Homo sapiens: one gene and its partner. Changing the gene in region 2 together with the main gene of any one other region gives a genetic interaction. Each region holds a gene or a part of one and is shown on either strand. Other genes may lie near its edges.

Region 1 (7,968 bases), on a different chromosome or scaffold from region 2:
GTCAGGAAATGGAGTCAAGCCATAGACTGTTGGCATGGAGGGAGCCCTTCCCTAACTTATACTACAGGGAGGAAGTTTGATGGGCAATAGGAAGCAAGAAGGAAGGGAAAAAAGCTTAGGACTTTTAACAGAAAGGTAGGATCATCAATTCTGATTTCCTCCAGAAGTAGACTAGTCCCCTCATGTCCCCAGGAAAAAAAAAAAAATCCTTTTCCTTTTTTTTTTTTTTTCCTGTCGCCCAGGCTGGATTGCTGCAGTGGCACAATCACAGCTCACTATATCCTCGACTTCCTGGGTTCAAGCAATCCTCCCACCTCAGCCTCCCAAGTATTTGAGACTATAGGCATGCACCACTGCACTTGGCTACTTTTAAAAAATCTTCTGTAGAGATGGGGTCTCTCTGTGTTGCCTGGGCTGGTCTCAAACTCCTGGCCTCAAACAGTCCTCCCACCTTAGCCTCCCAAAGCACTAGGATTACAGGCATGAGCCATCACGCCCAGCCCTTTTCTTCAAAGAGAATCACTTACCTAAAATTGCCTTGTGTAATGCAGAGCAGGCTAGGCAAAGCCAGCAGACTAGTTGTTTTATAGCAGTCTCACTCTCCTCCTGGCCTTCCCCAGGCACAGCTTTGGTCCCCTATGGTCTTCCCTGCATCCGCGAGCTCTTCCGCTTCCTCATCTCCCTCACCAATCCACACGACCGCCATAACTCAGAGGTTATGATTCACATGGGACTGCATTTGCTGACAGTGGCCCTTGAGTCAGCCCCTGTAGCCCAGTGCCAGACCCTCTTGGGCCTCATCAAGGATGAGATGTGCCGTCACTTATTCCAGGTAAGACAAGATTGCTAGAGGGTCTCAGAGCCTCTTTCAAGGGCCAGGGGAACACAGGGAGGTCTGGCTGATTACGCAAAGAGTATAGGACCTAGGAAAGCATCTCCCTCCCAGTTGGCTAGTAGTTTTAGTAAGAGGGTTCCAGTAGTTCCCCAGGGACTCTGGCAGCCAGAGAGAAATATAGGAATGGCTAGATGTAGAGTTCCCTGGAAGCAATGGACCTCAGTGACACCTTCACTCAGTTTGCCTCTTCTGCCTCTCTTGGTTGAGCCATAGTCAGCTTCAGAAACCTCACAGCCGGGCTGGGTGCAGTGGCTCACGCCTGTAATCCCAGCACTTTGGGAGGCCAAGGCGGGCGGATCACGAGGTCAGGAGATTGAGACCAGCCTGACCAATGTGGTGAAACCCAGTCTCTACTAAAAATATCAAATTAGCTGGGCATGGTGACGTGCGCCTGTAATCCCAGCTTCTTGGGAGGCTGAGGAAGGAGAATATCTTAAACCCAGGAGGCAGAGGTTGCAGTGAGCTGAGATTGCGCCACTGCACTCCAGCGTGGGCAACAGAGTGAAACTCCGCCTCAAAAAAAAAAAAAAAAAACTCATGGCCTACCCTGCTCTCATCTCCAGCTACTCAGCATAGAGCGACTAAACCTTTATGCTGCTTCCCTGCGAGTATGCTTCCTACTGTTTGAGAGCATGCGAGAGCACCTCAAGTTCCAAATGGAGGTGAGTTTCTTGATGTGGAAAGAAAAGGGGGAAAAAAAATAGGGAGATATATGGCATCTTCAGTGGGGCCAGCTCTATCATGCTACAGGGGTAGGATTTAGGGACTTCCTATAGGAGAGTCCTTTTAGCCTCCAGAGTTCGGTTCAATCAACTGGCCTCTTTTGTGGAAAAGTTAAAAGGAGACCAAAGGAAACTGGCTGACCCCAAATATGAGAACTGCCAGGTAACCTTACCATGAATAGGGACAGCTCTTCTGCCCAGCAGTTACTCTGCAACACAGGTAGGTAAGTCAAGCCAGCATTGTCACTAAATTGCTAAAAGGAACTCTAAATAGGACCAGGTCATGTTCACATAGCACAAAAGGGCAAGAGGCAACTTGTCTGGGACCAGGTATGTGGTAGAGAGCCAGGCCTTATCCCCCAACATGGAGGCCAAAGAAGAGATATATTTAGGGGATGGAATACCTTTGGGTGTCTCTTAATACATGCCTCTAGGCTGGGCTTCTGCATCCTGTTTAATGTTTTTCCTGTCTAATTTTTTCTCTTCCTATCTTGAATCCTTTCCCCACCCAAATGGCAATTACTGGGTTATTGCCAGATGTACATCAAAAAGCTTATGGAGATCATCACTGTGGAGAACCCCAAGATGCCTTATGAGATGAAGGAGATGGCACTGGAGGCCATTGTGCAGCTCTGGCGCATCCCCAGCTTTGTCACAGAGCTCTACATCAACTATGATTGTGACTACTACTGTTCCAACCTCTTTGAGGAACTCACAAAGCTGCTGTCCAAGGTGCTGAGCACTATAACTGGCTTCTAGGAAAAAACGCATTATAAAGGAAATCTCCCTGGTGGTAGTGAGGATGTTACATACAGAGAGGGGAACACTTGAGAGCTGGGAAATAGAAGAAAGGCATTTTCTTTTCTTTTCTTTTTTTTTTTTTTTTTTTTTTTTGAGATGGAGTCTCACTCTGTTGCCCAGGCTGGAGTGCAGTGGCGCGATCTCGGCTCACTGCAAGCTCCACCTCCCGGGTTCACACCATTCTCCTGCCTCAGCCTCCCGAGTAGCTGGGACTACAGGTGCCCACCACCACGCCCGGCTAATTTTTTGTATTTTTAGCAGAGACGGGGTTTCACCATGTTAGCCAGGATGGTCTCGATCTCCTGACCTTGTGATCCACCCGCCTCGGCCTCCCAAAGTGCTGGGATTACAGGCATGAGCCACCACGCCCGGCCAGAAAGACGTTTTCTAAGGGCAATGTACAAGTTAGAAGAAGTTTTGGAAATTTTAGAAAATGATCAAAGTGTAAAGTGTTCTCCTAACTACAAGTCCAATTGATCTGTTTACTTTCCAGAATGCCTTCCCTGTGTCTGGTCAACTCTATACAACACACCTACTATCTCTTGATGCCCTATTGACAGTGATTGACAGCACCGAGGCCCACTGCCAGGCTAAAGTCCTCAACAGCCTCACCCAGCAAGAGAAGAAGGAGACAGCCAGACCAAGCTGTGAGATAGTAGATGGCACCCGAGAAGCTAGCAATAGTGAGAGGCATTTCTTTCTTTGATGAACCCAGTGTTCTATGCTTATCCCTTCTCTACTCTCTGAGTCGTTTTTCCTGTCCCCATATCACTTCCCCTGGGATGCTCCCAATTCTGTTTCTGGGCTTTGGCAGTTTAAATCACAGGCCAGTCAGGCAGATTAGTAGAACTCATAGCCTTCTCCCTTTTTCCTCCTCCCCACTTTGGTTTTTTACAGAATTATTATTTCTTTATGGCAAGAGAAGAGAACAGAGATTAAAGAATATAGGATTTCTGTCTCTGAAAGCTCCAGGTCCCACCATCCCTCATCCCCAATATCTGCCTCCACTCTAATTAGTCCTCTCTAGCTCCCCCTTGAAATTTGAGGTTGCAGAAGATCAGGGAAAGTGACTGGGTAATCTCTTCATTAAATTAGAGAATCTAATGCTTGGCTGGGACAGGGACTACTTATTTTGGCTTGGGTTTGTCCTGCTCAGGGCTGGCGCCCTGTGCAGGAACCATGCAGGTCTTCTGGGCTTGGGATTTGATCTATCCTGCAGCTCTGCTTGGCTTCATACCCTATAAGTCTTCACGTATCTTCTTCTCTCTTACCAGCTGAGAGAACTGCCAGCGATGGGAAAGCTGTAGGCATGGCCTCAGACATCCCAGGCCTGCATCTGCCAGGTGGAGGGCGGCTGCCACCAGAACATGGGAAATCAGGATGCAGTGATCTGGAGGAAGCTGTTGACTCTGGGGGTGGGTACTGGGTGTCCATGACCCTAAGCTCCTCACCTGGAGGGCCTGGTGAAGAGCAGAGGGAGGGAGCAGACACCTAGGATAGTAACTAAGCAAGCCTTGGTAGCCCGCCTCGCCTTCAGACTCAGAGAGAGGGAAGCAAACATATGGACCCTCAGTTGATAGGACTTCCAGGGAAGTGGAAGACTGGTGAGGACAAGATTTCTGAGGCTCCTTCTTGAAACTGGGGAGTATATTGGTGACCTTCCAAAAGTCCTTATCTGGGTAAAAAAAGGTGTTACAGATATTTCCCCCCTCTTCTTCCTACTCCTAGCTGACAAAAAGTTTGCCCGGAAGCCACCCCGATTTTCCTGTCTCCTGCCAGATCCACGGGAACTAATTGAAATTAAAAACAAAAAGAAGGTACATACATGTATTCCCCAGCCTCTGTCCACCTCTGTCTGGGTGTCCAGTGTTGTAGGGTTTCCATCTCAGAAGATGAAGGAGAGTCTAGCACCTCATTGTACAGCTTCCTGAGGCCAGTCTTTGGGCTTGTTGGGACTTCAGCAACTCCCATTTGAAGCCCTTCCCTTACTCCTAAGCTATGTAGTTGAGCATACCCTATGTATGCCCCTGCGCAAATGCTGTACCAGTTGAGAGCCAAGTGTCACTAGTGGCAGTGACAGGAGCCTTGGGAGTTGGTGTCTTGTGGGTCATTGAAGGTTACTGTCATCTCCAGCTCTTGCAAGATGATTGGCAATAAAGGGAAATTGATATTCATTCTGGTGCTTTAGTAAGGTTCAAATAGTAAGGTTCAAATAACTGTTTGTACTTTGGATTTCTTTTTTTTTTTTTTTTTTTTTTTTTCAGACGGAGTCTCTCTCTGTTGCCTAGGCTGGAGTGCAGTGGCATGATCTCAGCTCACTGCAACCTCCACCTACCGGGTTCAAGCAATTCTTCTGCCTCAGGCTCCCAAGTAGCTGGGACTACAGGCGTGTGCCACCATGCCTGGCTAATTTTTTGTATTTTTAGTAGAGACGGGGTTTCACCGTGTTAGCCAGGGTGGTCTTGATCTCCTGACCTCGTGATCTGCCCACCTTGGCCTCCCAAAGTGCTGGGATTACAGTCGTGAGCCACCATGTCTGGCCTGTACTTTGGGTTTCTTAACACAAAGAAAACCTAACCCTTTCTGGCCGGGCGCAGTGGCTCACGCCTGTAATCCCAGCACTTTGGGAGATCGAGGTGGGCAGATCACCTGAGGTCAGGAGTTTGAGACCAGCCTGGCTAACACGATGAAACCCCGTCTCTACTAAAAATACAAAAATTAGCTGGGCATGGTGGTGCATGCCTGTAATCCCAGCTACTCGGGAGACTGAGGCAGGAGAATCAGTTGAACCTGGGAGGCAGAGGTTGCAGTGAGCTGAGATCACGCCACTGCACTCCAGCCTGGGCAACAGAGTGAAACTCCATCTCGGAAAAAGAAAAAAAAAACCTAACCCTTTCTTTCTCTTATTGCCAGCTTAAATGACTTTGGTTCATGTGTGCCCTTGAGTACCTGGCCGTGACTGGACATACAGAAATATGAGTTGCCTCCACAGTTAGTCCACTTTGTCTTTCAAACCCAGGGCATTAAGCTAGGCAACCAAAGAAGCTAAGCTAGGCTAAAAACAAGAGGCTGGCTATCAACAAATGTCAGGGATGGATATAAAACTGGAGAGAAGAATTACCTAGTTTCTTTCTTCTACTTTTCCCCCAATCCTAAGTTAGAGAAGAGGAACTGTTTTATGTATCTTGAGCACTCAGGAAAGGAGTAAAAAAGAGCTCGTAAGCCAATTCAATTAGACATGAAGATGGGGGAAGCTAAGGCCATTATGATCTAGCCTTAGTTCTGTAATCACTAAGAACCACATCCTAGGAGCTTTTTAGCTGACCAACTGTGGGTGGGCTATGGTGGACTCCAGGCTGGCCTTGTCTAATTTAGAGGCAAAGTAGCTTCTATACCTCTAGTTTTTCTCATGCAGCTGCTAATCACTGGCACAGAGCAGTTCAATCAGAAACCAAAGAAGGGGATTCAGTTTCTGCAAGAGAAAGGCCTCCTCACCATCCCAATGGACAACACAGAGGTTGCTCAGTGGCTCCGAGAGAACCCTCGGCTGGACAAGAAGATGATTGGAGAGTTTGTGAGTGACCGCAAAAACATTGACCTGTTGGAGAGCTTTGTGAGGTGAGGAAGCTGTAAGAAATGTGGGATATAGCCAGGTATGGTGGCTCATGCCTGTAATCCTGACACTTTGGGAGGCTGAGGCAGGCAGATCACTCGAGCTCAGGAGTTCAAGACCAGCCTGGGCAACATGGTGAAACCCTGTCTCTACAAAAAATACAAAAATTAGCTGGGCATGGTGGCATGTGCCTGTAGTCCCAGCTGTTCAGGAGGCTGAGGCAGGAAGATCACTTGAGTCTGGGAGTTCGAGGCTGCAGTGAGCTGTGATCATGCCACTGTGATAGAGTGAGATAGAGTGAGATAGAGTGAGATCATGCCACTGTGATAGAGCTGTGATAGAGTGAGACCTTGGCTCAAAAAAAAAAAAGGTGGGACATGGTTAGTGATCAGTTTAAAGGGACAGAACATCCCTACCTCAAAGCGGTCTCTATAAATTTCTTCTGGAGACCCTAGCCAATGTTCTTCCTCTACCCATCATTTATATCTATTGGACCTGAAAGGGACTCCAACGAGATAGTTTGGGGAGCCCCCTCCATTCTGCATGGAGTCCATTCCAAAGGGGTAGAGCAGGGTTCCAGGGGGTGAGGGTTCTAGGCAAGAGTCCGTGGATGTGAAAAGTATTAAGGCTAGGGGTTGTGTTAGGGATGAACAGGAGATACTGCCCCTTTACTAGAGACCTCAGCCTCCTCTCTTCCAGTAAGAGTAGGTTAGGAGGACAGTGACTAAAAGAGCCTGACATGTGCAGCTTACACATTTTCAGCCTCTTCTTCCTTTCTTTCCCTATAGCACCTTCAGTTTTCAGGGTCTGCGACTGGACGAAGCCCTCCGCCTCTACCTGGAAGCCTTCCGTTTGCCTGGGGAAGCACCAGTCATCCAGAGGTTGCTGGAGGCATTCACAGAGCGTTGGATGGTGAGTTTGAGTGTCAGGGGCTGAGCCCAGGATCCAAGGTCAGTTTGACTGAGGGCTGAAGAATCCAGCTGCTGTCTCTTTTTTTTTTTTTTTTTTTTGAGACAGAGTCTCGCTCTGTCACCCAGGCTGGAGTGCAGTAGCGCAGTCTCAGCACACTGCAACCTCCACCCCCCGGGTTCAAGCAATTCTCCTGCCTTAGCCTCCTGAGTAGCTGGGATTTCAGGCACCTGCCACCAAGCCTGGCTAATTTTTGTATTTTTAGTAGAGATGGGTTTTGCCATGTTGGTCAGGCTGGTCTCGAACTCCTGATCTCGGGTGATCCGCCCACCTCGGCCTCCCTGAGTGCTGGGATTACAAGCGTGAACCACCGCACCCAGCCTGCTGTCTCTTAAAAAGTCAGAGAGCAAAATTAGTGACCTTTCCACAAAGAGATCAGCTTCTGTTAAGGAGTTGGCAAGAGACTGGCCACTTTCTGGATGGTACCTCTCCTCTGTACTAGCACTGACCAGTGGGTTGGTAGTGAGGGTTTAATTGGCCAGAGAAGGGCATTGACACAGGCGGGATCTTTGCTTTTTCAGAATTGTAATGGCTCCCCATTTGCCAATAGCGATGCCTGCTTTTCCCTGGCCTATGCTGTCATCATGCTTAATACTGACCAGCACAACCACAATGTTCGTAAACAGAATGCACCCATGACCCTGGAGGTAAGCTTGGGTCCCAGTCAAGGCAAAGAAGACCCAGCACAGCTTGGGAGGTAGCAGGAAGGACATAGGATTTCCAGTGGGCATGATGGATGGGGTTCTGTCCAAGGGAATCAGGAAGGGCTGGCCAACCTAGAAAAGGGACTGGGGTGGGGAAGTGGGTTTTTTCGCTTACCTTTTCCTAAGTCCTATTTACTGAAAACCCAGGAGTTCCTTAGGTGGGGCTTCAGTGTTGACACAAGGGGAAAAAACTTACTGGCCTGTCTCTAGGAGTTTCGCAAAAATCTGAAAGGTGTGAATGGAGGCAAGGACTTTGAGCAAGAC
Region 2 (9,335 bases):
GAAATGATAAACATGTTGGTAAATAAGAAAGACATTTTTCTTTTTTATTTTTCTAAATATCATTGCTGTTTAAAGCAAACAAAAATAGTATTGCAGTGTTTATAATATATGTATAAGTAAAATATAGGACAGAAATAGCATGAAGGGTCAGAGAGGGCAATAAATGTAATTATATTGAGATAATATTACTATATTGTACACAAAGTGAGATAGCATTAGTGTAAGGTAGATTGTGATAAGAATGCATTTTGTAATCTCTCACCCCATCACTGGGGTGCAGTAGATCTAAAAAGCCATTAGAGAAGATAAAATGGGTCACTAAGAATTATGTGATTAGTCAAATGAAATCAAGGAAAGAAAAACAGAGCAAAGAAGTGTAAGATAAAACAGTGGGATGGAAGAGCTGAAATTAATAATGTCACTAAATTGCTTACCTTCCTCCTTCCTGAACTGTTGTGGATTTTTTTTTTTTCAGGGGGTTGAGGTTTTTTTTTAGAGACAGAGTCTCTATTGCCCCAGGCTGGACAGCAGTGGCGTAATCAGTCTCAAAATCCCTGCAGTCTCAAACTCCTGGGCTCAAGTGATCCTCCTGCCTCGGCCTCCCAAAATGCTGGGATTACAGGCAGGCAGAGCCACCACACCCTGCCAGAACTATTGTTTTAAAGTCATTAGGTGGTTAAGCCCTCGAGACTATGTGCAAGTTTGATGATTCGTTAGGAGCACTCACAGGACTCAGCATATAGTCTTATTCCCAACAATGATTTATTAGAGCAAAAGGATATGAAGCAAATTCAGCAAAGGGAAAAAAGGAATTAAGTGAAGTCCAGAGGAAACCAAGCACCAGCTTCTAAGGGTTCTCTCCTAATGAAGTCACACAGGATGTCACTCCAGCAACAAGTGACAGCATGTGAAAGTGTTAAGCCTCACTGTTAGACATAGTAAGCTTGTTAGGGAATAGAGGGAATCTCCCCTCAAATTCAAGTTCCCAGATGCCTGGCAAGGGCCAACCTTGCCAGCAGGACTTTCTGGGGATAGCAGTCCCAGGCACGTGTTTGCACAGTGGTTCAGATCAATGTGCTTACATTGGGTAGAGGGGACCTATGGAAGTCCAAATTTGGGTGTCAGAGACCTAATAGGGTGAAGACAGTGTCTACAATGATGGACAGCTAGGTATGAGGTGTCAGGGACAGATTGAGGCAGTTATTCACATGGTGGATAGGGGCAACCTGGAATGAGGAATAAGCTCAAGCACAGAAAGGGGTGTCCATATGGGGTAAGGGTGTCAGCAGAGATGGTAGATTGGTTGCACACCAAAGACTTGATGGAATAAAGTGAATATACTAACCACAGAGAAGGTAATTATAAATACAGAAAGGGGGGAAACTAGAATGAAACCTGGAGTTCAGCTTGAATTGGGTTTAAGAAAGTGAATTCATGGTTTAAAATCTATAAAAATAGATGAAATATCGGCTGGGCACAGTGGCTCACGCATATAATCCCAGCACTTTGGGAGGCCGAGGCGGGCAGATCGCTTGAGATCAGGAGTTTGAGACCAGCCTGGCCAACACTGCGAAACCCCATCTCTAGTAAAAATACAAAAATTAGCCAGGTGTGGTGGTACACACCTGTAGTCCCAGCTACTTGGGAGGCTGAGGCACGAGAATCACTTGAACCTGGGAGGCAGAGGTTGCAGTGGGCTGAGATCGCACCACTGCACTCCAGCCTGGGCAACAGAGCGAGATCCTGCCTCAAATAAAAATAGAGGACATATAAGCATATAAATATACACGTGTGTATGTGTCCAAATATGTATATTCCCTAGTCTGTCCACCAAGGTGGCCTTGGAGCAGTTATGCTCCAATAATAATGAGCACATAAAGTACCCATATCTTGCCTTCCAAATTCTTCACTGTCTTAGTCTGCTTGGGCTGCATTACAAAATACCATAGACTGGGCAGCTTAAATAACAGAAATTTATCCTCACAGTTCTAGAAGCTTGGAAGTCCAAGATTAAAGTACCAGCCAGTTTGGTTTCTAGTGAGGGCTTTCTTCCTGGCTTGCAGATGGCCACCTTCTCACCGTGTCCTTGTATGGCAGACAGCACAAGCTCTCTGGTGTCCCTTTTTAAAAGGGCATTAATCCCATCATGACAGTCCCATCCTCATTATCTCATCTAACCCTAGGTACTTCCCAAAGGCTGAATCACCAAAGACCATCACATTGCTGGTGAAGGCTTCAACATATGAATTTGAGGGACACGAATATTCAGTCCATAACATCAACTAAAGGAACCAAGACTCTTTGATAAAATGGCTAAATTCAGGGCTGGGGCAGAGAAAATACATGAGTGTGGAACTTCTTGTGCCAGAGAGAAAAAGTGCCCAAAGATTGATGAGGATGAATCATTGAAATGACACACAGATTAAAAGGGTTCCCACTGGACAAATTTGAGCATCAAAATAAGTAATAGTAGTAATTAATTATAACCCATCAGAAGAAATAAACCATGAGCTCATGTGAATATATGAATACAAACATAAACAAATTACAAGCATAATGAGGAATGTGATATTTATATGGTTTAAAGGTACCTCTCCAGGCCGGGTGCAGTGGCTCATGCCTGTAATCCCAGCACTTTGGGAGGCCAAGGCAGGTAGATCACCTGAGGTCAGGCATTTGAGACCAGCCTGCACAACATGGTGAAACCCTGACTCTACTAAAAATACAAAAATTAGCCGGGCGTGGTGGCACGTGTCTATAATCTGCCACTGATTAGGTGTGTGATTTTCCCAAGCAGGGGATAATAGTAGTACCTATGTCAAAGGCTGTTATGAGGATTAAATGAGCTAACACATAATCGTGCTTTTTTTTTTTTTTTTTTTTTTTGAGACAGAGTCTTGCACTGTCGCCTGGGCTGGAGTGCAATGGCACGATCTCGGCCCACTGCAACCTCTGCCTCCCAGGTTCAAGTGATTCTCCTGCCTCAGCCTCCTGAGTAGCTGGGATTACAGGCTCCTGCCACCACACCTGGCTATTTTCAATAGAGACGGGGTTTCACTATGTTGGCCAGGCTAGTCTCAAAAACCTGACCTCGTGATCCACCCGCTTTGGCCTCCCAAAGTGCTGGGATTACAGGCATGAGCCACTGCACCCGGCTTTTTTTTTTTTTTTTTGAGATGGAATCTCTCTCACCCAGGCTTCATCTCAGCTCAGTGCAACCTCCGCCTCCTGGGTTCAAGCAATTCTCCTGCCTCAGCCTCCCGAGTAGCTGAGATTACAGGTGCCTGCCACCACACCCGGCTAAGTTTTATATTTTTAGTAGAGACGGGGTTTTGCCATGTTGGCCAGGCTGATCTCAAACTCTTGACCTCAAGTGATCTGCCTGCCTCAGCCTCCCAAAGTGCTGGGATTACAGGCATGAGGCACTGTGCCTGGCCTCAAATTCTTAGAATACTGCCTACCACATATTGAATGTTCATTAAATCCTAGGTATAGGACAGGGGTGTTGGCTCATGCCTGTAATGCTAGCATCTTGGGAGGCTGAGGCAGGAGGATCACTTGAGCCCAGGAGTTCCAGACCAGCCTGCGCAACATAGCAAGACCTCTCCTCTACTAAAAAAGATTACTGTGGCTGCAGTGTGGAGAACAGATTGTCGATAGATGATAATACCTACGATTTTATTTATTTTTTACTTCTTATTTATTTTTTTGAGATGAAGTGTTGCACTGTTGCCCAGGCTGGAGAGCAGGGGCACGATCTCGCCTCACTGCAACCTCTGCCTCCCGGGTTCAAGCAATTCTCCTGCCTCAGCCTTCTTAGCAGCTGGGATTACAGGCACCCGCCACTACGCCCAGCTAATTTTTTTTATCTTTAGTACAGACAGGGTTTCACCATGTTGGCCAGGCTGGTCTCAAACTCCTGACCTCGTGATTCGCCCGCCTAGGCCTCCCAAAGTGCTGGGATTACAGACGTGAGCACCACACCTACTCAGTTGTTCTGTATACCATTACATGTTCAGCAACCCTAATCCAACCATCTGAAATTAAAATGCTCCAAAATCAAAACTTTTTGATCATCAACACGATGCCACAGTGGAAAATTCCACACCTGACCGCATGTAAAAAGCTGTAGTCAAAATTTTGTTTGATACACACACAATTTTTAAAATTGCATAAAATTACCCTGAGGCTATGTGCATAAGGTGTATACGAAACATAAATGAATTTCAAGTTTAGCCTCTGGCCCCATCCCCAAGATAAAGAGCCACAATCTGAAACAGTTCTGGTCTTAAGCATTTGGGATGAAGGATACTCAACCTATACCCAGTTTTCTACACGACACTACTTATGAATATCTTTTAAAAATTTCTTTATCCCTACTTGTTTTCTGTCTTCCCTACCAGAATATAATTTTCACGAGACCAGTATCTGACAAACACACGTGCTACATATTCAATCTTTATCGAATGAATTTAATATTTTCCAAGTTTTCTATAATTAACATTACTTCTATATTATTAATTTTATAGAGAATCCAAATAGCATTTTATTAAGTAGACCATTAGTCGGTCCGAGTTCAAATTCTGCTACTACAGCAAACTATATGTAGGACTCAAGGCAAGTTTCTTTTTTTTGAGACGGAGTCTCGCGCTGTCGCCCAGGCTGGAGTGTAGTGGCGCGATCTCGGCTCACTGCAACCTCCGCCTCCTAGGTTCAAGCGATTCTCCTGCCTCAGCCTCCAGAGTAGCTGGGATTACAGGCGCGTGCCACTACGCCCGGCTAATTTTTGCATTTTTAGTAGAGCCGGGGTTTCACCATGTTGGCCAGGCTGGTCTCGAACTCCTGACCTCAAGTGATCCGCCTGCCTCGCCGCCGAAAGTGCTGGGATTACAGGAGTGAACCACCACGCCTGGCGGAGGCAAGTTTCTTAATCTTCTTTCCTCACTTGTAAAACTGGAATACTGTCCATTTTCATAAGGTTAAATCATACAACACAGGTAAAAGCGCTTCAGCACGCAACGAAATTTTTCTAACGTAACGAAAAACTCCTCGTTGCTCCTTGCCTTGCCCTTAACCTCAACGCTTCAGGTCCCGACCAATCTCTCGGAGAGCTCAGAGGGAGCCGCTCTAGCCGCCTTCCGCCACGGAGTGCAGGGACAGCCGGGAAGGGGACGGAAGCCGGAGGCCAGAGCACGCACTTCCTCCCACGCTTTCCTCACAGCCAATCGCCCACTGGTGCCCCACCCCTTCCGTTCTGGGAAAACTCGAGCACCCAGAACGGCTTCCGGCGGGAGCTGTGCAGCTCCTTATCATGGTGAGTTGGCTGTTGGGGTGAGGGTTTCGGCTGTAGCTGATTCGGTTTATCTTATTTGGTCCCGAAGCGACCTTGAAATCCCTCAGCCACCCAGAGGAGGGGTCATTGGAGTTGAAGTCGGGCCCCTTGGCAGGAGCGGCTGTCTCCCAAAATGTTCCCCTTCAGAGTTCTGGTCCCTTTCGGTCCCTCACCTGTTCCGCAGGCGCTCACGATCTAGGCCCCGCTGCAGGCAGAGCTTTCAGCTCCTGGCGAGTTTCTGACTTCCCTCTGCCGAGATTTCTTTAAGGTAATAAAAGTTTTTGCCAGCGTCAACAACTAGGCCACCAACAAAAGATCTGAAAACAAGTCCACAGCAACAACTGTAATAGTGATTCTTAGAGCAGTGGCGATAACGCCAGCGGAAAAAAAAAAAAAAGGTTAGTAATAGGGTTTTAGGGCAGACGTCTCACTCTGCAACTTGGCTTTACTAAATATTAAGTAGCCTGATTACGGCAGCAAATTTCATAAGCGCAGTAACTACAGAAAGTCAAGGTGTTGGTAGGACATTTTATTGCTGCTTTATTTCTGGGTTTGTAGAAACTAATGGAAGACCCAGTAGACGTTATGGTTGTTGGGATATGGTGTTTTCTCTCAAATTTGTTAGAATTAGTCATTCTTTGCCTTTAGAGCTCAAATATATAGCTCTGAACTTTAAAGATAAGCAGTTGGTTGGGATTTGAAGTGTCCAAGTGGCGTGTGCCTTTTGAAAATGCATTTATTAGAAAAATTTATGGAGTACTTATTGATAGCCTACGTATGAGAAAGAGACCACATTTCTGTGCCTAAGCTTTTGTCACTGTACTAAGTTTTTTACTTAAGTGGATATGGTCGGGAAAATGCCTCATTCACACACTTTATGTTTTGTAAATTTTCTGTAATCCTTTTGCACACAGAAAATGGGTAAAAGTTTACACTTTTTGGCTAATGATCAAATAGCCTTCAGTTACGCTCTTCTTCAAAACATTCACCATTGTGAAGCCTGTAGCCAGAGTTATATTTCTAAAATTTGACCACATCACTCCCTTACTCAAATTTTCTCCTTTTTTTTTTTTCTGTAGCACTCAAGATAAAGTCCTGTTTAGCATGGCATACAAAGCCACTCATTATCAAGCTTCTTACTTTTACAGCCTCTTTTTTTGTTGTTGTTTTCGAGACGGAGTTCCACTCTTGTTGCCCAGGCTGGAGTGCAATGGCGCGATCGCGGCTCACCACAACTTCCGCCTCCCGGGTTCAAGCGATTCTCCTGCCTCACCTTCCCGAGCAGCTGGGATTACAGGAATGCGCCACCACGCCTGGCTAATTTTGTATTTTTAGTAGAGACGGGGTTTCTCCATGTTGGTCAGGCTGATCGCGAACTCCTGACCTCAGGTGATCCTCCCGCCTCTGCCTCCCAAAGTGCTGGGATTACAGGCGTGAGCCACCGTGCCAGGCCACAAACTCTTTTTTTTTTTTTTTTTTTAATGCATACATGTATGCAACATCCGTATTTCAGCCACAGTGAATAGCTTGCAAATCATGCTGTATTAATTGAGCCTTTGTACCTAATTTGCATATGCTCTTCCATCCCCAGAATTGTTCTCTGTTCTCTATCGGCTGTCCTTATCAGAATAACCCTTATATATCCTTAATTATTTTTCATGAACCTTTCCCTCATGTTCCAGTATCCTCTTAGTTGCTTCTCCTTTGTGCTCTGGTGGTACCTTGTGCTTTTATATGCACAAACACACACACACACACACCAGTTTTGTTACATAAAGCTGCACAAAACGAATACATACAATAGAAACTTAACTTGCCTATAATACTGATGATTTGAAGGGAGTTGAAGATAAAGGGATAAGAGACTTAAAATTCAGAGGTCTTTCAGATTATACACCTTCATTAACTCACAGCCCTAATTTAAGAAAGTAAAACTTGAATCTCTTGTGTTTTTTACCAGTAACATCTGTAATCCTTACAGACGATGTTAAAGTTGTGTACTTATTTGTCTTTCTCACTTTCTAGACTGTAAGCTCATTGAGAGCAGGACCTATGTATTTCACCCTAATTCCCAGAGCTTTGTAGCGTGCCTGGCCCAGAGGAAGTTTTCAATAAACATCTGTTTTATAAGACACTGAAAACTTATGGCACTATATCTTTATGCTTGAAACATTAGTATTAGTCATGCAGGGAAACAGTATTTAAGGTTTATTTTAAAGGATATTGAGAAAAGGTTTTGCGTTTATTAAGAACATGCTATGTGAAAACAGTACTTTCTTAGAAAATATAAAGAAAAATACAAATAAAACGTCTGTTTTATAAAGCACTGAAAACCTATGGCACTATATCTTTATGCTTGAAACATCAGTATTAGTCATGCAGGGAAACAGTATTTAAGGTTTATTTTTTAAAATAAATATTTTAAAATAAAATATTGAGAAAAAGGTTTTGTGTTTATTAACATGCTGTGTGAAAACAGTGCCTTCTTAGAAAATATAAATAATATAAATATATAATATTAAAAATATAAGTATATAAAAACAAAATATAAAGGAAAATAGCCCTTGTCATTAGTGAAGTTACTAAAATTACAAAGCAATGTAACAAGTTGAAGGCTTTACTTTGGTTAATGCAAAATAAGTGGCATAAAAAACACTATAGTTTGGAATGATCTAGGAAGACTTCATTTAAGAAGTGAAACATGAAACTAAGTACTTTGTGCCCCACTCTAATACTCTTAATCTAATACTTGTTTGTCATTATATGAATAAGAGCTTGGGTTAGACAGATCTGGCCTTTTCACGCAAGAGTGGTCATGAGACAAAAGAGTAGACCAGTTTAACTGAAGTTGAGGGTTTCTATCTGGAGTAAGAGATAAGACTGGAAAGAAACAGGCTAAGTCATTGAAAACCTGGAAATTCAGGTTGTAAAATTTGTAGTTTATTCTGATAGCAATGGCGAGCCAATATAATTTTGGGAAGAGTGATATGACATTAGGATTTTTGTTTTATTTTCATTGTCAGGATGGCATCAGAAGTGGCTTTCTGCCTCTTAGAAACCTTGTTGATTCTCTTAACCTGAAACTTAAAGTTGGCTAGGGTTAAACAGAAGATGTCCAAAATAACAGTATTAAGGAGAATTTTTTAAATCTTTGGAACCAAAATAACTCACACATAATTCTTTAAGAAAAGAATATATATACATATGTACATACACATATATATAATATTTATACATATGTACATTTATTTATGTATTTATTTATTTATTTCGAGATGGGGTCTCGCTCTGTTGCCCAGGCTTGAGTAAAGTGTGAACCTGGCTCACTGCTTGACTTCCCGGGCTCATGCGATCCTTCCACCTTGGTGTCCTGAGTAGCTGGGACTACAGGCATGTACCACTATGCCTGGCTAATTTTTTTCTTTTCAATTTTTTTGTAGAGACAGGGTCTCAGTATATTTCCTAGGCTGGTCTTGAACTCCTGGGCTCAACTGATCCTCCTGACTCAGTCACCCAAAGTGGTGGAATTACAGGCATGAGCCACCATGGCCAGCCAAGAAAAAGATATATTTATTGGCTGGGTGCGGTGGCTCACGCCTGTAATCCCAGCACTTTGGGAGGCCAAGGCGGGCGGATCACGAGGTCAGGAGATCAAGACCATCCTGGCTAACACGGTGAAACCCCGTCTCTACTAAAGGTAAAAAAAAATTAGCCGGGCGTGGTGGTGGGTACCTGTAGTCCCAGCTACTCCTTCACCGCAGAATGGGGCTGCGACAGAGTGAATATCCTGTTTGCCGTGTAGCCTATATTTAAAATCAGACTGTCCTCCTCAAAAGCAGCTGGAACTGAGGTTCAAGAGATGGATGTGACTGTGTATAGGGAGAGGCATACCATTTTTATTTTTAAAGTATCAAGAGAAATCATGATTTCACATTAACAATACAAAGTTGCAAAAGCAAATGTGAATAATGAGCAGGTACTGATTTGGCCAGCTTTATAAATG

Evidence for each region. Genes that interact genetically often act in the same process or in processes that back each other up.
Region 1: changes in SLC30A6 (region 2) and GBF1 together harm fitness less than expected from each alone (positive genetic interaction), as found in Homo sapiens cells (one study listed by BioGRID).

The regions. Positions count from the first base shown.
Region 1 is NC_000010.11:102,359,564-102,367,531, forward strand, and holds part of GBF1 (Golgi-specific brefeldin A-resistance guanine nucleotide exchange factor 1), read left to right. Parts: intron 1-620; coding exon 621-832; intron 833-1,458; coding exon 1,459-1,557; intron 1,558-2,154; coding exon 2,155-2,349; intron 2,350-2,911; coding exon 2,912-3,101; intron 3,102-3,692; coding exon 3,693-3,833; intron 3,834-4,146; coding exon 4,147-4,235; intron 4,236-5,833; coding exon 5,834-6,036; intron 6,037-6,819; coding exon 6,820-6,943; intron 6,944-7,521; coding exon 7,522-7,647; intron 7,648-7,914; coding exon 7,915-7,968. UniProt on the Homo sapiens protein: Guanine-nucleotide exchange factor (GEF) for members of the Arf family of small GTPases involved in trafficking in the early secretory pathway; its GEF activity initiates the coating of nascent vesicles via the localized generation of activated ARFs through replacement of GDP with GTP.
Region 2 is NC_000002.12:32,160,590-32,169,924, forward strand, and holds the start of SLC30A6 (zinc transporter 6), read left to right. Parts: upstream 1-5,274; 5' UTR 5,275-5,311; coding exon 5,312-5,314; exon of another isoform or gene 5,315-5,600; intron 5,601-9,335. UniProt on the Homo sapiens protein: Has probably no intrinsic transporter activity but together with SLC30A5 forms a functional zinc ion:proton antiporter heterodimer, mediating zinc entry into the lumen of organelles along the secretory pathway.